Regions from separate parts of the Homo sapiens genome. Here all the other regions are linked to region 4. Evidence: fine-mapped expression QTL. A gene starts in region 4. Each other region holds a variant in brackets. All regions are shown on one strand. Distances are between the middles of the regions.

Region 1 (5,686 bases), 140 kb after region 4:
TACAATTTATCTGCAAAGTTACTGTGGTCAGGCACTGGGGTGAGTGCTTCACCTGTGCTATTTCATCTTCTAGAGAAGGGACTAATAATATCTCCACTTTAAAAATGAAGAAATGTAGGCTTAGGCCAGGTGCGGTGGCTCATGCCTGTAATCCCAGCACTTTGGGAGGCCGAGGCAGGCAGATCATTTGAGGTCAGGAGTTCGAGACCAGCCTGGCCAACGTAGTGAAACCCTGTCTCCACTAAAAATACAAAAATTAGCCGGGTATGGTGGTGCATGCCTGTAATCCCAGCTACTCAGGGGGCTGAGGCAGGAGAATCGCTTAAACCTGGGAGGCCGAGGTTGCAGTGAGCTGAGATTGTGCCACTACACTCCAGCCTGGGTGATAGAGGAAGCCTCTGTCTCAAAAAAAACAAAACAAAACAAAACAAAAAGTAGGCTTAGAAAGTTTAAGTAATTTGCTCAAGTGATGTAGCAGCTGAGTGGTGTGACTGAGATTTGAACCCAAGTAATTTTGGCTCTATCCTATTAGGACATTTATTTATGTTCTTGAGCATTAAAATATTTTTGGTCGTCTCATAATGAACCATGCTACTCAGATATAAAAACTAGGAAAGCACTGTATCATTTCAAAAGAATATTAACAATGTCGGGCCATGGCTGTGTAATGCTTTTCTCTGTAAACAGTACATTTATCAATCAACAAAGGGAAATGAGTCTCTGTGAGATGGAAATAATAAAAGTCTGACCTTCCCCTCTGAGAAAAAGCCATGAGGACTAATTAAGTAATGGCTCCACTCCAGTTCTGCAGGGCTAAGTAATGAAGGACCTGGGAGGACTCCAGCTCTGTTTTCCAGAGATTATGTTTGACTGTGGCACTGGGCATTTTCCACATATCATCTTGATAATTACTTGAAAAGCAAAACTTAAAGCATTTCACTGATTACGATTTTTTTTTCTTGCTGAGATATCCATGATTTAAACTGTCAGGGAGGGTCACTGGCCTAGAATTCTTCTTGGGTGATTCATTGCAGAGTGAAAATACTGACTTCTAATCTCAATGTGGCCTTACATTTTAGAGATGTTTTTGTACATGAGTTTGCCTTCCTTTCCTTCTTCTCCTTCCTCCCCTTCCCTCCCTTCCTCCTTTCTTCCTTTTTCTTTTTTTTTTTTTCTCTTTTTCCTTAAATCCTGAGAACTGTATTTCCTCTTTTAAGCTAGATTGCTGGAGATAGCTTTCATGGTTTACAAACATGTATACAAAAGTTGCCCAGCAGTTCTCCTACAGATGGTGGTCTGTTGGTGTTCCTAATCATATATGTGCTTTTTTAAAAAATAGACTAATGGAATGATTAAAACAACAGAGGCCAGGCACAGTGGCTCACACCTGTAATTCCAGCACTTTGGGATGCTGAGGTGGGCGGATCATGAGGCCAGAAGTTCGAGACCAGTCTTACCCACATAGTGAAACCCCATCTCTACTAAAAAACAAAAAATTAGCCAAGTGTGGTGGTGTGCACCTGTAGTCCCAGCTACTCGGGAGGCTGTGGCAAGAGAATCGCATGAACCCGGGAGGTGGAGGTTGCAGTGAGCCGAGATCGTGCCACTGCATTCTAGCCCAGGTGACAGTGCGAGACTCTATCTCAAAAAAAAAAAAAAAAAAAAAAAATAGGGACAAAAAGACTACTTTGACTTTGTGTTTGTCTAATACCTTCTTTCAAACATTCGCATGTCCATGCTTGCTTGTTGCAAATTCGAAACAATTTTATGTTTGGTTTTGGCTTTGTGGGGTGTCTGATTAATTGAAAGTGAGTGGAATTCTGGAGAATGAGCAAGAAGAGACTAGGCTGAGGATAGGAGTGAGAGCACACACAGGTGGCACCATAAATCTCTCCTAAGCTGTAGTCAGTGCACAGGAAAGTCCATGGCCTAAAATCGGGGTTATGCACGCCCCCCACCGCCACACACACACGTTTATGTCACAGCTGCCGAGGAGCACTCTGAGAACCTTTAATACAGCGTTTACATGTGCATCCTTTAAAAAATACTTCATGAGTCTTTATGCCAAATAAATGTTTCCTTCGCAGCCCAGGCCACTTCCTTCAAACGAAAGCCATTAGTGTGAGCGATTACTGCAGCCCAGCTGTTCCCCAGCAGCACACCGGGCCAGTAAACAGAGCAAAGGTCTGTGCACAGCTGCAGGCTGATGTCACTGTCTGGGGCTGGGCCTGCTGCTTTGGACTATTACAATAACAGCAGTGAACCTCCTGTTCCC[C/G]CATCTGACCCATTTTCTCCCTTTCTCTTTCCCGTTTCTTCCCATGTGTCCTCTCTTCACCTCACTTATCAAAACGTCAGAGCTGCCTTTTTTTTTTTTGGTGAATAGAGGGAAACAGCCCTGTCCCATGGCTAATAGGAAAGGACTTCTGTGTATCCTATTTGGTTTTAAAGGCTGATGTGCCACAATTACATATTCAAAGCGACAGTATTTTTATCATAAACAGATGTGTTAAAATCAGCCAGGGTAGTCTGCTATTAACGTCAGCTTCGAAGCTCTTCTAGCCCAGGGCTTGGAGGCAGTCTCTTGTTTATTGCTGAGTCCCTGAGTTCACTTAGATGTTTCTGTCCCAGATATGAGCTTCCAGATGGGTTCAGATCTTGTTCCTGCTTTTTTATTTTTTAACTTTGGAAATACCGGAAATTTTAAGAGAAGCAAGTGAAAAGCCTGCGTGAAACTAGAATTTCTCTGACTAGAAGCTATTTGATACCTTCACCAACGGCTTGCAAAGTATGTTTCTGTTGTAGGTTTTCATAGAAAGTTCTAATACGAGATTCACACGAGGAGCCTTCAGAGTCGGAAAGTTACTTGGCAGAAGCTAATGCAGTGTTTACTCGTTTGACTAACATTGGACTTCTTGAGTCATTTTTTCTTCTGTGGTTACTAGTGTAATAGAAGGAAAAGTGAATGTGCAGAGAATGTTCTCCAGCAGTCAAGACCATCACTATCTTTCACTAAATTCTTTTAAAGGAGAAAAGAAACTTTTAATATTCAGTCCCAAAGGCTTGAGTTGCGTGCGATGGCCCCTGTAATCTGGCCTCCGTCTGTCTTTTTGGGTTCTATCTTCTCTGCTTTGTGAGTTTCTTAATCACCAAGGCTCACCGTTCTGTCGCCCATCATTGCTCATGCTGGGATAGGATTTTCATCCTTGATGCCTCAATTTTATTTCTATCATATGGCTTAATTTGAAAATCTACTGACCAAATCATAACCACAGTGATGTACTCATTAGGATGGCTGTTACATATATTTGAAAAAATCAAATAGGTTCTGGTGAGCATGTGGAGAAATTGGAACCCTTGTGTGTAGTACTGCTGATGGGAATGTAGAATGGTTCAACCACTATGGAAAAGAGTACCATAGTCCTTCAAATAATTAATAATAGAATTGCCATATGAGTCAGCAATTCCTTCTGGGTATATACACCAAAGAATTGAAAGCAGGGACTCGGGCATGTATTTGTCCCCCGGTGTTCATAGCAGCATTATTCACAGTAGCCAAAGGTGGAGGCAACCCAAGTGTCCGTGGATGGTAAGTGGATACACAAATGTCATCTGTACGTGCAATGGAATATTATCATTATTATTATTTGACACGGAGTCTTGCTCTGTCACCCAGGCTGGAGTGCAGTGGCGTTATCTTGGCTCACTGCAACCTGCACTGCTTGGGTTCAAGCGATTCTCCTGCCTCAGCCTCCCGAGTAGCTGGGACTACAGACGTGCGCCATCATGCCCCGCTAATTTTTGTATTTTTACTAGAGATGGGGTTTCACCATGTTGGCCAGGCTGGTCTCGAACTCCTGAACTCAAGCGATCTGCTTGCCTTGGCCTCCCAAAATGCTGGGATTACAGGCGTGAGCCACTGCACCCGGCCAACAATGGAATAATATTGAGCCTTCAAAAGGAAGGAAATTGTGACACATCCCACAGCTTGGATGAGCCTTGAGGACATACGCTAAATGAAATAAACAGTCACAACAGGACAAGTACTATTTGAGTCCAGGTATATGAGGTACTGAATGGTCAGATTCATAGAGAAAGAAAGTAAAATGGTCGCTGCCAGGGCCTTGGGGAAGGGGAGGGGATGGGTTGTTACTGTTTAATTGGTACGAAGTTTCAGGTTGGGGGGAAACGTTCTGGAGAATGGATGATGACAAAGCTTACACAACGATGTAAGTGTATTCAATGCCACTGAATCATACACCTAAAAATAATTAAAATGGTTAATTTGGTATCTGCTTCATCACAGTTTTTTTGTTTTTGTTTTTGAGATGAAGTCTTTCCCTGTCGCCAGGCTGGAGTGCGGTAGTGCGATCTTGGCTCACTGTAACCTCTGCCTCCCGGGTTCAAGCGATTCTCCTGCCTCACTCAGCCTGCTGAGTAGCTGGGACTACAGGCACACACCACCACGCCCAGCTAATTTTGTATTTTTAGTAGAGATGGGGTTTCACCATGTTGGCCAGGATGGTCTGGATATTTTGACCTCATGATCTGCACGCTTCGGCCTTCCAAAGTGCTGGGATTACAGGCGTGAGCCACTGTGCCCAGCCCTCATCACAGTTTTTATTTATTTATTTTTTAATTGTTTTAAAAATCTGACCAAACCTTTGGTCCACCCTGACTGGACGTAAACTATCCTGAGTGCCACTCCCTGGGCCCCAAGGTCTGGCCTGGTCCTGCCACTTCTCCTCTGTCTGTTGTCTCTTCCAGTAGAGGCCCCATCATGCGCCTTGCCAGCCCCAGCACAAGAAACAGCTTGGTAGAAAAGAAGGGGCACGGGCTTTGGGTGCAGGCAGAATCAGAATTCAGACTGCTCACCGAAACCCATCCTCTCACGCTTGCCAGCTCTGTGCCCCTGGGCAGATGATTTAGCCTCTCTGTGGCGGTTTCCTTATCTATATGTTTAGGAGGGTCCTCTGTGAGGGTTAAACAAGATAAAGAGCCCCATTCTGTGCCAGGCAACGAGAAATAGTTTTTGTTTTGGGGATTTTTTTTTAATGTTAAATCTTTGCCCTTCAATAAACATTTGTAGATTGATTTAATTTTTAAGGGTTCTCTTTGGCAGACACTATTCCTGCCATTATTTCAATGTGGCCTCCTTTTCCTCTGAAAGAATACTGACTGGGGGCAAGTGACTTGGGTATTTCTACCACCACATGGCAGGTTCCTGAGATAACAAGTTGACACCATTGTAGGAAATCTTCCTAAGAACCTGCCATTTTCACGTTCCTTAGGCCAAATAATTATTGATCTAAATTGTCCTTTTCTGTGCCCTAAAATAATCTTCTTCCTTCAACTCCTGATATGTTATTCCTTTCCAAAGAGAGGTAAGGGTTAATTTAACAGATTTGCCAGCAACCCTGTCGTATTAATCCACGAGTACTCTGGGGATGTGGACAGCATGTGTATCCCTGACAGTTACAGTAGTACCCTGTCTGCCTGTATTTACACATCGGTGACAGAAGACTGGGAATGTCCAAAGTCAGGCTTCCTAAGGAATTCAAGATTTTCTAGGATTTATTGTAGTGTGTGTACATATATCTTTGGTTGTGTTCTGCCATGTATTATATTGTTAGTCATTCTATTTTTGGTAGTTGTAGGGAAGAGCTAAGATGTTCTGATTTTCAATTAT
Region 2 (5,686 bases), 92 kb after region 4:
TACATTTTGGTAATTCTCACACTATTTCAAGCTTTTTCATTATTATTATATCTTTTACGGTGATCTGCGATCAGTGATCTTCCATGTTACTGTTGTGATTGTTTTGGGACACCATGGACCATGCTCATCTAAGACAGTGAACACAGCTGATACGTTTGCATTTCAAGTGCTCCACTGACTGGTCCCTCTTCCATCTCTCTCCCTTTTCTTGGTCTTCCTTATTCCCTGAGACACAATAATATTGAAAGTAACCAATTAATAGCCCTATAATGACCTCTGAATATTCAAGTGAAAGAAAAGTTGCATGTCTCTCACTTTAAATCAAAAGATAGAAATGATTGAGTTTAATGAGGAGGGCACATTGAAAGCCAGGATAATTCAGAAGCCAGGTCTCTTGTGCCAAGCAGTTAGCCAAGTTGTAAATGGAAAGGAAAAGTTCTTGAAGAAAATTAAAAGTGCTCCTCTAGTGAACACTCAAATAAGAAAGCAAAACAGACTCCCGGCAGAGAGAAAGTCTGAGTGGTCTGACCAGAAGATTAAGCCAGCTGCAACTTTCACTTCGGCCAAAGCCTAATCCAGAGTGAGACCCTAACTCTCTTTAATTGTATGAAGGCTGAGAGAGGTGAGGGAGCTGCAGAAAAAAAAAAGCTGGAAGCTAGCAGAGGTTGGTTCATGAGGTTTAAGGTAACTCTTCATAACATGAAAGTACAGGGCGAAGCAGCAAGTGCTGATGTAGAAGCTACAGCGAGTCATCCAGAAGATCTAGCTGGGATCATTTGATAAAGGTGGCTACACAAAACAACAGACATTCAGTGTAGGTGAAACAGCCTCATATTGAAAGAAGATGCTGTTTAGGACTTGCACAGGTAAACAGGAGAAGTCAGTGCCTGGCTTCAGATGACAAGCTGTCTTATTAGAAGCTAATACTTCTGGTAATTTTAAGTTGAAGCTGACGTTCACTTACCATTCTGAAAATTCTAGGGCCCTTAAGAATTACGTTAAATCTACTCTGCCTGTGCTCTATAAATGAAACAACAAAGCCTGGATGACAGCGTATTTGTTTACAGTATGGTTTGCTGAATATTAAGCCCATTGTTAAGACCTACAACTCAAGAGATGTCTTTCAAAATACTACTGCCGACTGACAGTGCACCTGGTCACCCAAGAACTCTGATGGAGTATAGTATAGTGTATTACATAGTAATATATAGTACAAGAGTATAGTACAGGAAGATGGATGTTTTCACACCTGCTAACATAGCAGCCACTTTGCAGCCCATGGATCAAGGAGTAATTTTGACTTTCAGGTCTTACTATTTAAGAAGTACATTGTGTAAGACTGTAGCTGCCCTAGATACTGATTCCTCTGATGGAACGGGGCAAAGTCAGTTGAAAACCTTCTGAAAAGGGTTTGCTCTTCTAGATGCCATTAAGAACATTCGTGATTCATGGGAGGAGGTCAGAGCACCAACGTGAATAGGAGTTTGGAAGAAGCTGACCTAACCGTCATGGATGACTTTGAGGGGTTCAGTGCTTCAGTGGAGGAAGTCACTGCAGATGTGGTAGAAATAGGATGAGAACTAGAATGAGAAGTGAAGCCTAAGGTGTGACTGCATTGCTGTTGATCTCTGGTAAAATTTGAGCAGATGAGGAGTTGCTTCTTATGAATAAGCAAATAAAGTATCTTCTTGAGATGGAATCTACTCCTGGTAAAGATGATGTGAACACTGTTGAAATGACAAAGGAGTCCGAATATTCCATAAACTTAAAGCAGTGGCAGGGTTTGAGAGGATTGACTCCAATTTTGAAAGACTCTCTGCTGTGGGTAAAATGCTATGAAACAGCATCACGTGCTACAAAGAAATCTTTCATGAAAGAGTCAATTGATGTCGCAAACTTCATTGCTGTCTTACTTTAAATTGCCACAGCCACCCAAACCTTCAGCAACCACTACCCTAATCAGTCAGTCAGCAGCCACCAACATTGAGGCAAGATGTTCCACCAGCAAAATAATTCCTGCTCACTGAAGGCTCAGATGATCTTTAGCATTTTTTAGCAATGAAATATTTTTAAATTAAGGTGTTTTTTTTTTTTGAGACAGAGTCTTGCTCTGTCGCCCAGGCTGGAGTGCAGTGGCATGATCTCTGCTCGCTGCAAGCTCTGCCTCCCGGGTTCACGCCATTCTCCTGCCTCAGCCTCCCGAGTAGCTGGGACTACAGGTGCTCGCCACCATGCCCGGCTAATTTTTTGTATTTTTAGTAGAGACGGGGTTTCACCGTGTTAGCCAGATGGTCTCCATCTCCTGACTTCATGATCCACCTGCCTCGGCCTCCCAAACTGATGGGATTACAGGTGTGAGCCACCACGCCTGGCAAATTAAGGTATATATTTTTTTAGACATAATGCTGTTGCACACTAGACTATAGTGTAGTGTTAATATAAGTTT[T/C]ATATGCACTGAGAAACCAGACAATTTTTGTGATTTGCCTTATTATGTCATGTGTCTTATGGGGTGATATATATCTCCCAGGTATGCATGTAATGTTACAGAATGTTGACTACAGTTTGTTCACACATTGTGAGTGTCAGGTGTTAAGGATGCAGTCCTGAGCGAAGAATGAGCAGGGGCCTTGTCTCTGGAGAGCTAATAGGATAGTTAAAAAAATAAAATAAAAAACCTGCTCAAATAGACATGAATCACAAATGCACTGAGTTCTAGGAAGGAGGGTTGTCTTGTCCTAGAAGAGAGGTCCGGATTGAAGGCTGTCATGTGAGGGAAACCTGGGCAAGAGGTATAAATTTCTGAGCCTGTTGTGTAAAGAAAACAGGGTGGGATAACATTACATCATGAATAACATGAATAACAAATATCCTTGATGCCCCATCAGGTGTATTCAGTTTCCTCAGTGTAATAAGCAGGGAAGTGTGGGGAAATTATCTCAGAATTCTTTTTCTTTTTTTTTTTTTGAGGCAGAGTCTTGCTCTGTCGCCCAGGCTGGAGTGCAGTGGCGCGATGTCTGCTCACTGCAAGCTCTGCCTCCCTGGTTCACGCCGTTCTCCTGCCTTAGCCTCCCGCGTAGCTGGGACTACAGACGCCTGCCACCATGCCCGGCTAATTTTTTGTATTTTTACTAGAGATGGGGTTTCACCGTGTTAGCCAGGATGGTCTCGATCTTCTGACCTCGTGATCCGCCCGCCTCGGCCTCCGAAAGTGCTGGGATTACAGGCGTGAGTCACTGCGCCCAGCTATCTCAGAATTCGTAACCTTTTGTAGGCTCTTAAAGCTAGGAAGACAGCCATGCAGAATGATCTAAGTTCTAAAGATCCCCAGGATGCTGAGTGTGAATATATGTGGTTACTAAAGCCTTTATAGGGTAAAAATGCAGAAGAAACTCTGCTGTACACATTTAGGCTTTTATTTCCTTTTAAGTTTCTGGTACATCCTAATATCTGGGGAAAAAAGATAGCTAATATTCTATGGAATGGCTTTGTTTAAAAATTAGTTAACCATTATCAGAAAACTGGCTCAATTGGTAGCTCTGTGTTTAACAGTTTAAGAAACCTCCAGGCTGTTTTCCAAAGTGGCTGGACCACTTTATATCCTCACCAGGAGTGTATGAAGAATCCTGTTTCTCCACAGCCTTGTCAACACTTGGCTTTGTCTGTCTTTTTTATTATAGCTATCCCTACTGGGTATGAAGTGATACCTCATTGTTGTTTCAATTTGCATTCTGACAGCCAGTGACATTGAGTGTCATTTCGTGTGCTTACTGGCCATTTGTATATCTTCTTTGGAGAAGTGTCTATTCAAATCATTTGCCAGTTTTAAACTGGGTCATTTTTATTGTTGAATTGTAGGAGTTCTTGTATAGTCTGATATTAGACCCTTGTCAGAGTTATCATTTGCAAATATTTTCTCCCAATTCTTGGGTGTGTTTTCACTTTCTTGATAATGTCCTTGGAAACATAAACGTTTTAAATTTTGACAAGGTCCACTTTATCAACTTTTTTTCTTTTGTTGCTTCTGCTTTTGGTATTGTATCTCAGAAACAGTTGCCTAATCCAAGGTTGTGAAGATTTAAGCCTGTGTTTTCATTTAAGTTTTTTTTGCTATTCTAGCTGTTATAGTTAGGTTTCTGATTCATTTTGAGTTACATTTTTATATGGTATGAGATAGAAGGTCTAATTCTTTTTTGCACATGGACATCCAGGTGTTGAAGACATGTATTTCCCCCATTTAAATGCCTTGGCACCTTTGTTAAAAATAATTGGTTAAGAATGTGAGGGTTTATTTCTGATTTCTAAATTGTGTTCTTTGCATTTATATGTTACCTTTGCCAGTGCTACACTGTCTTGATTAGTAAGTTTTGAAATCAGGATGTGAGTCATTCAACGTCTTTCTTTTTCAAGATAGTTATGGCTATTCTGGGTCCCTTGATTTTCTGTATGAATTTTAGGATCAGCTTGTCAATCTCTGTAATGAAGTCAGGTGAGGTTTTAGGAATGTAATCTAATAATTCCAATTCTAATAATTTCTGTTACATTGAATCTATAGATGACTCTGTATATATAGAATGTATTCTAAGGGGTCAACATTGCAGCTTAATCTAGATTGTGTGGTAGGCCTCTGTATTTTCCCGAAACCATAAGCATGACTTTCCCAGGTTCTTCTCGATGGTTAGTTATTATCATGACTTAAGACTAACCTGGTATTATGAGGAGCCTAGTGAGGAAAAGTTACTGTGTGGACAGAGGACCACAACAAAGTGTGTTTGCTTTGGAAAGACGACTTTGATGCTGAAAAATGATGCTGAAAAGCCAGTGACTTTGGGTGGATCATTGAACCTCTTTGATAATAGTTTTCTATGTAACTGAAAGGGTGGATTTCTAGATTTCTCCCTACTGTGATATTCTGTGACTGAAAATCACCTTGACTTTTTTCATATTCTGCTGGAAATGAGTCATATTTTAGCTGATACAGAAGACATTGCCTCCACACATAAACATGTTCCTCTGAGTGTAAATTTTTAATCGTTGTACTATGGCTTTGAGATATTTTTATTTTAAAGCTGTAAGTAGTGGTGGAGATTACAGTTGAGTTGACCAACTTCATATTCCTTAGTTCTAGTAAAATAATCACTTTTAATTATAGCAGTTTGCCAAACTTCAAAAAGTTTAGCATGTAGTTTAGAAATCACCCTTCAGCTTTTTAAAATTTGTCGTTTTAAATGAAATTTAGATAAGTGTATATCCTGCTTTGTCATTTAACATATAGTAATCACTTTTACATTTAGCAGATACAGTAACATTTAACTACTTTTGAATATTTAGGGTGCTTCTGTATCACATTCATAAATGATTCTATGATGAACATCTATACAATTAGCACTTTCAACTTTCAATTTCTTGTGATAGATTATTAAAAGTAGTATCAGGAAATCACAATATGTACCCATTTACAGTCACTTCACTCAAATAGCCAAATTGTTTTCCAAAAGCTTCATATCATTTTATACCGTGGTTGACATAAAAGACACCTGGCTTCATCATACCTTGGGTCAACATTGGATATTATTTTTAAATTTTTTTGACTAACATAATAGTTTAAAATGTTACATCATTGTTTTAGCTTGACCTTTATCAATTAAAGAAATTACATTATCTCATAAGACAATGTAGAAAAGCAGGA
Region 3 (5,686 bases), 160 kb after region 4:
GCTAGAGGTGAATATTTGGGTCATTTACATGTACACTACATAGCAAGTTGATACTCATGTTGCATGTTCTTTTAAATTAGTGATTTTGTGTCTTAAGTCTTTAACTTCCAATACTTCATCATGTATGTAACCTTCCATGTTTGCTTCTGATAAATGGAAATGTAGGTTCACTGCCACTTCATGAGATATCTCTGCTCACGCTTCCAAGTTGTTCTCAATGACATTAGCCAAAGTTGGGTTTGCCATTCATCCCCTAGGCATGGTAAATCTTGTGTTGTTCCCTGCTGTCCTCCGTATTACGTGACCGGCAAATAAATCTCATAGCAGTTAATATAAAACATCTTTGGAGGATGGGAGAGAACAGGAGGGAAGATGGGAAACAAAATAGAGAATTCTTAAGATTTTGTTTAAACCAAATGTTTCATGTAGAATGCAAAATGTTGGCACGTCAAAAATATGAATGTGTAGACAACTGTAGTTGTGCTCAGTTTGTAGTGATGGGAAGTGTATTTTACTCTGATCAAATAAATAATGCTGGAATACTCAAGAATTGCATCCTCTGACCTACTTCATTCTTCAAATTCTTCATTTTTACAGCCCTGTGACAGCACAGTAAAGGTCGTATCTCCTCTTAGTTTATATTTCCCAGGAATTTCCACTGCAACCGCAGAGTTGGTCATGGGCTCACAGAGCTAGAGTGAGAGGTAAGCTCTTCTTCTCTAAATTCAAAGCTATCTATGTTTGACAAATAAATTTTGGCTGGCTGTAACAATTTCTGCTGTATAAGAAAATTGGACAAACTTGGTAAATATTTTTGAATATCGTAAAAAATGTCTAAACAAAGTTGAATGTTCTTAATCTATGCATCTATTTCATATTGAAAGCTAAACTTCTAAAAACTTGTTCTAGTTATTGAATAGACTAATCTACAATTACACCTTTGAGTGCAGCAGTTTAAAAAAATGAAGTGTCCTTGAATTTTTTCAGTACCTTCATAAATTAACTCACATTTGTTAAAGTTGCTACTAAGACAAAATGACATTTCTAAGCATTTGAGTCTGGAGTTGTTGCTTGTGGGTAAGTAGTTGAACTGTATCTAGTACATTTTAAAATTCTAATATATTGCGGTGATATAAAAGAGAATACTTGGTATTGACCCACGTATCACCACCACCAAGTCTTTCTGGATGTATTTTAAGTCAACTTAACTTAAAAAACACTTATCCCACTTTTTATTTTTTACAAAAACGTGCTCATTTAATAGAAATGATTGATTATATAAAATTGTTTACACATGTATAAAAACTAGGAACACGTATGTAGGTAAGCAATCAAAATCATGCTTTCTGTTAGAAAAGTTAACACTTCTGTGAATAGACTGGATGACTTCCTTTTAGTTTGGATGTCTGGGTCGGACTCACGAGACGCTGGGGTTGGGGTGTGGTGCTTGACATCAGCCTCTGGCAAAGCACTAATAAAAGGAACCCCAAAGCTGACTGTGTACACAAATGGGCTTTCCATAAGTTCATTACATTTCCTTTTCCAAGTCAGGAAAACTCAACAGTGGTAGCTACTGTGGTCTGTCCTTGAAGATTCTGAGCAGTGCAAATGTAATATCCTGCATCAATCGTCTCAAAGTCTTCCACTGTAATGACACTCTGGGAGATTCTCGTGGTGTGTCCCAGTCCTCTGTGGATCAACCTCCAAGTGTCTTGGATCGTCACAGGCCTTTCATCCTGTTTAACGACACCCACAAAGACTGAAGCAAGAGGGACAAGCTGCTATAAAGAGCTCCCACTCACCCAACACTGTTGAGCGTTCCTTTCAGAGAGCAAAGCACATGCTTATAAAAGACTGTTTAGTATGCGTAGCTCATAAGCTGTGGAAGCTTCTACACTGGAATCATTTTAGGTTGCATTTTTTCCAAACAGCCCTTGAATTTCATTACGTTGTTTGGCACTGTCTTTCTGCCCTTTTCTTCTGTAAGGTTTTACTTAATCTAAAATGTATGCTTTTAGAACTCCAAGGAAGTGGAACTGGTATTAAGCATAAGCAGGGACAAAATTTTCCACTGGCCCCGTTCTTCACATTGCCCACTTTCTTTTCCTAGCTAAGTGGTTCTTACCTACAGAACTGAAAGTCAGTAGCCTGAAAAAGCACCCACTGTATAAATGACTAAGAGCTCCCAATTGCTCAGATTTGAGAGAGGGAGAAGTATGATTAGGCCAGTGTGCCTTAGGACTCTAGTGGGAGAAAAGTTGTACCAAGGATGGGTAAGATAATGTACTACATGACAGGACCCCTATTTCTACAAAGTGCGATGGTCACTTTTGAGATGTCCACCCAACTCCAGTGATAAGAACATAGTATTTTCTGAATTCATGTAACAGAACTAATATATCACTAAGTGAATACCTTTTCTCATAAAATACCAAATAGCAATGTGGCGGGGACCTCTATTGAAAATCATCAATGTCCTGTAAGTATGACCAACACGTTTGATAATCAAGTGCCTGGTACCAGGATGCCGGAAAACACTATTCCCCAGAGACAGTTATTTTCTACCAATCACAGCCCATAGGCCAGAAGGATGTCAGCTACTTAATGTGTCTTGTGGAGGCCAAATCTCTTCTGGCAACAAAGGGATTATTCCGTGCTGGGAGCAGAGCTGTTATTTTAGCAAGCAGAACATGCACAAGGGCTAAATACGCTGCAATTGCTTTTATGAGAAGTCTACTTTAAAATTATCTCTGGCCTCACAGCACCTTTTTGGCGTGGTCTATGTCCACTTGGTGGATGTCTGCTCACAGCAGCTTGCCATGGGCACAGCTTGTATAGAGAACACTCTAGCCAAGTGAAACACAGGAATAGAAAGGAGCAGCAGAAAGAGCCCTATGGGCTCTCTCAGTCCCCAAGGAAGCCATTTCTGACTTTGTCTCACAGAGATCCCTGGAGAGGGCTACCAGAGAAACTGGGAAAAGACCACAGGGAGAAGGAAACTTCTAGCTGAACTTTGTAACAATTTTGACCAAACACAGTTTCCTGGACAGAACTCGGGTGAGGGGGTGAAGCAGGAGTGCAGACACAGCACAGAAACCGTGGCAGGTAGGAGATGTGAAATCTGAAAACCCTGTTTGCTTTCTTATCCAAGAGGCTGGTAGCCTGGGACAAGTTCTCAACCCTGCTCATCCACTGCCTAGAAACAAACTCGGTGCTGTTGGCAGGGACAGAGGGAGTGAGACCGGCCCTTTGGGCTACGTGGGAGCTGGGTGAGGCCTGTAACTGCTGGCTTTCCCCCACTTCCCTGGTGACCTGCATGACACAGCAGAGCAGCCATAATCCCCTGAGGAACATAACCCCATTGGCCTGAGAACCACACC[G/C]CCAGTCCCAACAGCAGCCATAGCAAGACCCGCCCAAGGAGAGTGTCTGAGCTCAGACACGCCTAGCCCACCCCCAACTAATGGTCTTTTTCTACCCACCCTGGTAGCCGAAGACAAAGGACATAATCTCTTGGGAGCTCTAGGGTCCTGCCCACCACCTGATCCTCCCTATACTACTGCAGCTAATGCTGTCTTTAAAGTGCCACCTCCTGGCAGAAGACCAACACAAAACTAGTGCAATAAACGAAACTACAACTAAGGACCCTCACAGAGTTCATCCATTTCACTCCCCTGCCACCTCCATTAGAGCAGCTGCTGGCATCCATGGCTGAGAGACCTGAGACATCAAAGGACTCTGTACAGGCACCACTAAGTACCAGCCCAGAGCCCAGTAACTCTGCTGGGTGGCTAGATACAGAAGAGAAATAACAATCACTGCAGTTTGGCTCTCAGGAAGCCACACACATAGGGGAAGGGGGAGAGCACTGTATCAAGAGAGCACCCCATGGGACAAAAGAATATGAAGAGCAGCCCTTGAGCCCCAGATCTTCCCTCTACCATAGTCTACCCAAATAAGAAGGAACCAGTAAAACAATTCTGGTAGTATTTCAAAACAAGTTTCTTTAACACCCCAGAAGATCACACTAGCTCACCAGCAATTTATCCAATCCAAAAAGAAATCCCTGAATTGCCAGAAAAAGAATTCAGAAGGTCAGTTATTAAGCTACTCAAGGAGGCATCAGAGAAAGGTGAACTCCAACTTAATTAAATCAAAAAAGATACAGGATATGAAGGGAAAAATCTTCAGTGAAATAGATAGCAAAAATAGAAAACAATCATAATTTCTGGAAATGAAGAACACACTTAGAGAAATGCAAAATACATTGGAAAGTCTTAGCAATAGAACTGAACAACCAGAAGAAAGAACTTCAGAACTCGAACATCAGATTTTTGGATTAACCCAATCGAACAAAGACAAACAAAAAAGAATTTAAAAGAATGAACAAAGCCTCCAAGATGTTTGGGATTATATTAAACAAACAAACCTAAGAATAATTGGTGTTCCTGAGGAAGAGGAGAAATCTAAAAGTTTGAAAGACATATTTGAGGGAGTAATCAAAGAAAACTTCCCTGGCCTTGCTAGAGAGCTACACATCTGAATACAAGAAGCTCAAAGAACACCTGAGAAATTCATTGCAAAAAGATCGTCACCTAGGCACAGAGTCATCAGGTTATCTAAAGCGAAGATGAAGGAAAGAATCTTAAGAGCTGTGAGGCAAAAGCACCAGATAACTTATAAAGGAAAACATGTCAGATTAACAGCAGATTCCTCAGCAGAAACCCTACAAGCTAGAAGAAATTGAGGCCCTACCTTCAGCCTCCTTAAACAAAAGAATCATCATCTAAGAATTTTGTGTACAGCAAAACTAAGCTTCATAAATGAAGGAGAGATACAGTCTTTTTCAGACAAACAAATGCTGAGAAAATTCGCCACTACAAACCCAGCACTGTAAGAAATGCTAAAAGGAGCACTAAATATTGAAACAAATCCTTGAAATACACCAAAATAGAACCTTCTTAAAGCATAAATCTCATAGGACCTATAAAACAAAAACACAATAAATAAATAAATAAATAAAAACCAAGGTATTCGGGCAACAAATAGCAAGATGAATAGAATAGTACCTCACATCTGAATACTAATGTTGAATGTAAATGGCCTAAATGCTCCATTTAAAAGATTCAGAATGGCAGAATGGGTAAGAAGTCACCAACCAAGTATCTGCTGTTTTGAAGAGACTCACCTAACAAATAGGACTAACATAAACTTATGGTAAAGGGCTGGGAAAAGATATTCCATGCAAAGGGACACCAAAGTGAGCAGGAGTAGCTATTCTTTTTGTTTGTTTTGTTTTGTTTGAGACAGAGTCTCACTCTGTCGGCCAGACTGGAGTGCAATGGCTCAATCTTGGCTCAATGCAACCTCCACCTCCCAGGTTCAAGTGATTCTTGTGCCTCAGCCTCCTTAGTAGCTGGGATTACAGGTGCAGGCCTGTCTTATAGAGGAGTAGCTGTTCTTATATCAGACAGAACAAACGTTAAAGAAACAGCAGTTAAAAAAGAGAAAGACGGACATTATGTAATGATAAAAGGACTTGCCCAACAGGAAAATATCACAATTATATATATATATATATATATATATATATATATATATATATATATATATGCACCTAATGCCAGAGCTCCCAAATTTATAAAACAATTACTGTTACACCTAAGAAATGAGATAGACTGCAACACAG
Region 4 (5,380 bases):
CGTTGCCCAGGCTGGAGTGCAGTGTCACAATCTCGGCTCACTGCAAACTTCGCTTTCCAGGTTCAAGGGATTCTCCTGCCTCAGCCTCCCAAGTAGCTGGGATTACAGGCGCCTGCTATCATGTCTGGCTAATTTTTGTATTTTTAGTTGAGACAGGGTTTCACCATGTTGGCCAGGCTGGTCTCCAACTCCTGACCTCAGGTGATCTGCCCGCCTCGGCCTCCCCAAGTGCTGGGATTGCAGGCATGAGTCACCGTGCCACCACGCAGGGCCAAGATAAACTCTTATACGTATAGTTGCAATATTGTTAGGTATCCTGACCTTCCCCCTAGGGAGGTCATTATAATTTACATTTACATTTTCATTGTGACTGCTAGTCTACACTTTTACCAACACTGTGATTATCAAACTTTCTAATCTTTGACAATCTGATAAGTGAAAAAATGGTTTCTCAATACAGTTGCAATTTGCATTTTCTTATGGAGGAAAAAAAATTGAGCCAACTTTTTTTTTTTTTTTTAGAATAAAGAGCCACAAAGTTATGTGAGTTATTATTTTATCCTTAATATTGCTCCTGGAGTCTGTAGCAGGTCAGCATCAGAGTTCAGAGATCAGGAACATGGCAACATGCCCAGAACCAAGATGAAAAGAAAAGCCAATAGGCCCCATTTCATGAATATTTGCCTTGAGGAGTCCCTGAAGATGTCCCTAGAAGTTAACTTCTGTTTTTATGTGGAGACAATTAGAAGCTAAGTTTCAGATTCCCCAATGCCTGCGTAAGTAGCTCTAATTACTTAGCAGAGCATTGTATGTTTCCCCCCTTCAAACCACCTGACACAAAAATGAAGTAAAACAGGTTCTATATTTATAGATATAACTAAGCCACACAATAGGATTGTGGGGTTTAGACCAAATCATCTAGGTCACATCAGGGTTATAAAGATTAAATGATATGTTTCACACAAGAACTATTCTGCTTAGGGATGGAGGCTTGTTGCTAATTAGCATAATTGCCTCGTGACTTGCGGAAACTATGTCAGCGTTTTGTTTTGTTTTTGTGTGCTTTTTCAGAGGGAGACTCATCTGGTGGTGTTAAATACTATATCTATTTAAAATTAATCACATGCCTTTCCTAACAACACGGATCATGCTAGTTGCATCTATCTTTACAACAGGGATTTCTGAAGCAAATGAGAGGTGTCATTATGTAATGGAATTAAAAGAGAAGATTAGGAGTTAGGCTGGCTGGGTTTGCACTTGCCCTCACTGGCTGTGTGACCTTGCGCTAGTCACTTGACCTTTCTGAGCTTCAATTCCTCATTTGAATAATGGAGATAATCTGACCTATATACCCCTGGGTTTTGTAGTCAGGAAATAATGGATCATTGTACATATGAAAAGTCTTTACAACTATCAATGGCAAGACATCTGTCAGTTATTCTAATATTCATGGTATAGAAAACTGTGAAATACAGAGTCCTTACGTCTATTCTCCAAAAAAGTTCACTTCTCTTTAAAAGCTTTTAGCAAACCACAATCCAGGTAATTAAAAAGGAAATATTAAAATTTTGTTCTCAGGTTGTCTGACATTTCACGGTTCAGCAATGTGACATCTCTCACAGGCAGAATAGCATCTTCGGACAAGTTTTCTATTAAAAATATGCTTTATAGAAGAAAATATTTTACGGACCTAGAAGACAGCTGTCGATGAAATTTGCTCAGTTTAGCAAACAGCAAGGACTGTGTTTGTGTTTAGAGAAAAGTAGGTCGAGCCTAGTTTATCTCCCTGGGGTTCTAGACTCCTTTCCACGTTGTATCTCAAGCTCTAATAGCTGGAAAGCTACTTTCTTTAACCTTTAATACACACTTGCTAGTAAACTTGCTAGAAGCATGAAGATAATACAGACTGCGAATCAGCCCTTCTAAGAGACAATCACGACTCCTTCCTTGCAAGCTTCCGCCCTGATAATTCTGCAACCTTCCCACCTTCTATACGCCCCGCGGTGCGAGGCCCCTCGGCCTGCAGGTGGCCAGAGGCAAGCAGGAGTCAGATCCCCCACCTACCGCGGCCCGGCCTGGGCCCTAGCGCTGGGTGCGGCGGAGCCCCGGGCTCCTGCGGGGACGAGCGTGGTCCCGGGACGCGCGGTGCAGCCAGGTGCGCCGGCGGCAGTGGCAGCCGCTGAGCGCCGCGTCGCACGTGGCAACAGGTGCAGCGCTGTCCCGGGCTGGCGCCGGGGGGCGTGGGGCGCGTCCGCACTTAGTCCGGGAGCGCGCGGAGCGTCGGGATTGGGACCCGAGAGCGGGAGCGGAGAGCGGGAGCGCCCGAGCGGAGTCCAGCGCCCCGAGGTACGGCCTCGCACGTCATTCAGGTTCCCCGAGGGCCGTCCCCTGGGACGGCGGCTGGCCTTGGTCTCCCGCAGCGAGCCGCTGGAGTGGAGCCTTCGGAAGGAGCCGCCCCGGGTTGGGGCGGGAGGCCCGAGTTCGGCTATTTACAAGTTTCCCGAACTCCCCGCCCTGCTCCACCCCCTGGCGGCCCCGGAGGCGGGGAGGCGGGGAGGCCGGGGCTCCGGGTCCCGCCTGGTAGCCGCCGCAGGCGTGGGGTGGTGCCGCGCCGCGCGCCCCCAGGTGCAGACGCCGCCCCCGAGACCTCCGGGGCGGGTTCTCGGCGACCCCGCCAGTGGTGCAAAGGGCGCCAGCCCTCCCCGCCTCTGCGTCTTTGCTCCCGGAGCGCTTGAAGGAGCTGCGGGTAAGTGCGCGCTGGAATCTGTTCCCGCTGCCCGGCGGCCGGGGTGGGGAGGGGACAGGCGAGCGCGCCGCCCAGGGTGACGGGACCGGTCCTCGGGGAGGGGAGGGGGCGTTCCAGGGGCCTGGGGGCCGAAGCTGAGGGCTAAAGGGGGCGGCAGCGCCGGCGGAGCGGAGGCGGGTCTCACGTGGGCCAGCGCAGAGCCTGCGGAAGGGACGGATGCGGATCTCGTCGCTGTCACCTTGAAAGTGACCGAGGGGCTTGACTGTGGACTCCTTACGCCGCCCACCCGGGCCCGGCGGTCCCAGCCTTCTCGCAGGGCCCCTTCTCAGCAGAAGCAAGCGGGGCCGAGAAAGCGGGTGGAATAGGGTTGCTGCAGGTCCCAAAGACCCCTCGTGGCGCCTCGCTACTTTCTGCAGCTTGTTTGCACTTTTTCACGCTCTAGAAAAATCTCATCTTAATTAAGGTGACCTTATTGACTACTCTATAGTGCTTAGTGGACTTAGGTGTTCACTGAGGAACGTTTTTGTTCTTTTTTGAAGACGTACTCCTTTCTACCAAGTTGTTTGTTGATTTTTGACTTGGAGTAATTTGGGACTAGGAAGGAAGAGGTTAATTCATTTAGCCTGCGTAGTTACACATACTCTGTTAAATACTGTTTGTTTGAAGTAGTCAGTGTTCTAAGAAAGGAAATCCAGTGTGTTTTGTTTGTTTCAATGAAACCAAAGTCTTAGGCAAAACGGTGCGTGGAAGCTTTCAAGTTTTGCCAGGTGCAGGTGATCGAAAGTCAATCATCACTAAATCACAGCGCTGGGGCTGGAGGGTGGGAGTAGGGGTGTTACCAGTGAATTTCAGGAGGAAGGGAGGCAATGCAGGAGGGAGGGGATTAAAAAAGAGAGTCATTGCTTCCTGGGAACCAGTGACCTCTTTAAGGAGGGTATATACAAGATAACAGTGCATGGACAACTTTAAAAGGAATTGCATAAACGGAATTGCAATTCTGTAGACAGTTTGCTTTTTCAGGGATGGTTAGGGCAGGAAATGATACACAACTTAAAATGGTGATGTCCTGTTAGTACAGTGCTTTACAGTGTAGAAAGTGCTGTTACAGATTTTTTTTTTTTCATAGGCAATATATTCCATTAGGAAAGCTATACAAAGAAAAGATTAGAACTACATGCTTATCCTTAAAACCAAAGCTAAAAAACCTTAGAAGTGGAATTTAGTTTAAAATAATATGTAGTTATTTATGTAACTTGCACCACGTTTTTTCACCTGTTCTTTTTAAAATCAGGTTTATGAAGAGAAAATAATTCTTGGTAAATCTGCTTGGTAGAAAATCATGCTTGGAACAAGACCTTTTAATTATGTCAATAAGTCAAGGTTACATTTTGGAGTATAATAGGATTATAAGATTCTAGATAATATCTTATATTTTTTGGAAACTAACCTGCAGTTATTACACTCAAGCATTTAAAAAGCCTGTTACTTAATAGCCCTGTTCTGTTAACCCTGTTTGTTTTGATTTCAAAAGTAATCCGTGCTTGCTGTATAAAAATAGGTAGATTGAGAAAAGTGAGTTAAGCAATTTCAGCAAAGATAATCACAGTTAATATTTAAGAAAATACTTGTTAATATATAGAAAAATTTTTTATAGTTATATAGTTTATCTAAATATACTATTGCGTGGAGGTTTTTTCCTGATTAATGTATCATGAAAAATTTTCCATGTCATGAAATCTTCAGAAATCTTAGTGGCTACTTAATATTACATTACATAGATGTATCAAACTGGTTTTCATTTATTTCCACTTACTAAATATACTTTTGCAACAAATACGTTTTTAAAACTTTATGTGCAGGGTTAATATCCTTAGTGCCCTTGAAATACAGTTGATGGTTGGAAGATCTCCTCATACATATTGACCATTTGCTTTCCAAAAAATGTTTAACCAAATTATGTTCCCACCAGCTCTCTGTGAGAATACTGGTGTTACCGTATTCTTGTCAACATGTAGAATCATCCTTAAAGGGAAAAAAAAAAAATTCTTCCCAGGTTTATAGGTGAACAGTGCTTTCTCTATATTTAAACTTCAATTTCTTTGATTACAGATGATTTGAACACCAAAGAAATCTAGTTGTTTTCCATTTTGAAATTTGATGTAGTGCCAGATTTTTCTCCTGGGATATTAGTATTTTTCCATTAATTCATAAGAGCCTTTTATGGATTGATAGTAAATCTTTGCCATTCATATTGCAGATACTTTTCCCATTTTATCTTTGCTTTATATATTTACAGTAGTTTTGACATACACAAATTTCTTTAATGTTGATAAATCTGTTGACTTTCTCAAAACAGAATTTTTAACACTTCTAAATCGTAGCTTCAGAACTATATGTGACTGTGGTAGAAGATTTAAAAAAAATTTTCCAGCCGGGTGCGGTGGCTCACGCCTCTAATCCCAGCACTTTGGGAAGCCAAGGCGGGCGGATCAGGAGGTCAGGGGTTCGAGACCAGCCTGGGCAACATGGTGAAACCCCGTCTCTACTAAAGATACAAAAAATTAGTCAATTGTGTTGGCATGGATCTGTAATCTCAGCTACTTGGGACGCTGAGGCAGGAGAAGCGCTTGAACC

Alleles and levels. Alleles are on the strand shown, and positions count from the first base shown. SD is a standard deviation of normalised expression in the study named. Not every link is listed here.
For the expression in skeletal muscle of the gene that starts at base 2,713 in region 4, allele G in region 1 goes with a higher level than allele C (large effect, 0.86 SD a copy in GTEx).
For the expression in coronary artery of the gene that starts at base 2,713 in region 4, allele C in region 2 goes with a higher level than allele T (small effect, 0.27 SD a copy in GTEx).

What was found. PIP is the estimated chance that this variant, and not a neighbour inherited with it, causes the effect. A credible set is the group of variants that fine-mapping cannot tell apart.
Region 1: its variant is the best candidate, but not a certain one, in a credible set for the expression of MTUS1 in skeletal muscle (GTEx, PIP 0.82).
Region 2: its variant is the best candidate, but not a certain one, in a credible set for the expression of MTUS1 in coronary artery (GTEx, PIP 0.72).
Region 3: its variant is the best candidate, but not a certain one, in a credible set for the expression of MTUS1 in lung (TOPMed, PIP 0.80).

What each region holds. Positions count from the first base shown.
Region 1 is chr8:17,658,333-17,664,018 of GRCh38, reverse strand. The region is part of intron 8 of MTUS1 (microtubule associated scaffold protein 1); the gene reads left to right. Among named protein-coding and RNA genes, the nearest start is that of MIR548V, 20 kb to the left of the region's middle. RefSeq lists enhancers at 2,045-2,339, 4,137-4,637. The variant C/G (reference allele first, on the strand shown) is at 2,276.
Region 2 is chr8:17,706,415-17,712,100 of GRCh38, reverse strand. All of the region lies in intron 6 of MTUS1 (microtubule associated scaffold protein 1), which reads left to right. Among named protein-coding and RNA genes, the nearest start is that of MIR548V, 28 kb to the right of the region's middle. The variant T/C (reference allele first, on the strand shown) is at 2,447.
Region 3 is chr8:17,638,663-17,644,348 of GRCh38, reverse strand. It overlaps PDGFRL (platelet derived growth factor receptor like), which reads right to left. Exons shown (of 6, transcript NM_001372073.1): 6 at 1,205-1,736. The coding sequence ends at 1,548. MTUS1 (microtubule associated scaffold protein 1) reads left to right here. Exons shown (of 15, transcript NM_001363059.2): 15 at 1-547. Among named protein-coding and RNA genes, the nearest start is that of MIR548V, 40 kb to the left of the region's middle. The variant G/C (reference allele first, on the strand shown) is at 3,381.
Region 4 is chr8:17,798,427-17,803,806 of GRCh38, reverse strand. It overlaps MTUS1 (microtubule associated scaffold protein 1), which reads left to right and starts at 2,713. Exons shown (of 15, transcript NM_001363059.2): 1 at 2,713-2,746. MTUS1-DT (MTUS1 divergent transcript) reads right to left here and starts at 2,465. Exons shown (of 3, transcript NR_186403.1): 1 at 2,065-2,465. RefSeq lists silencers at 2,110-2,299, 2,340-2,399, 2,480-2,599.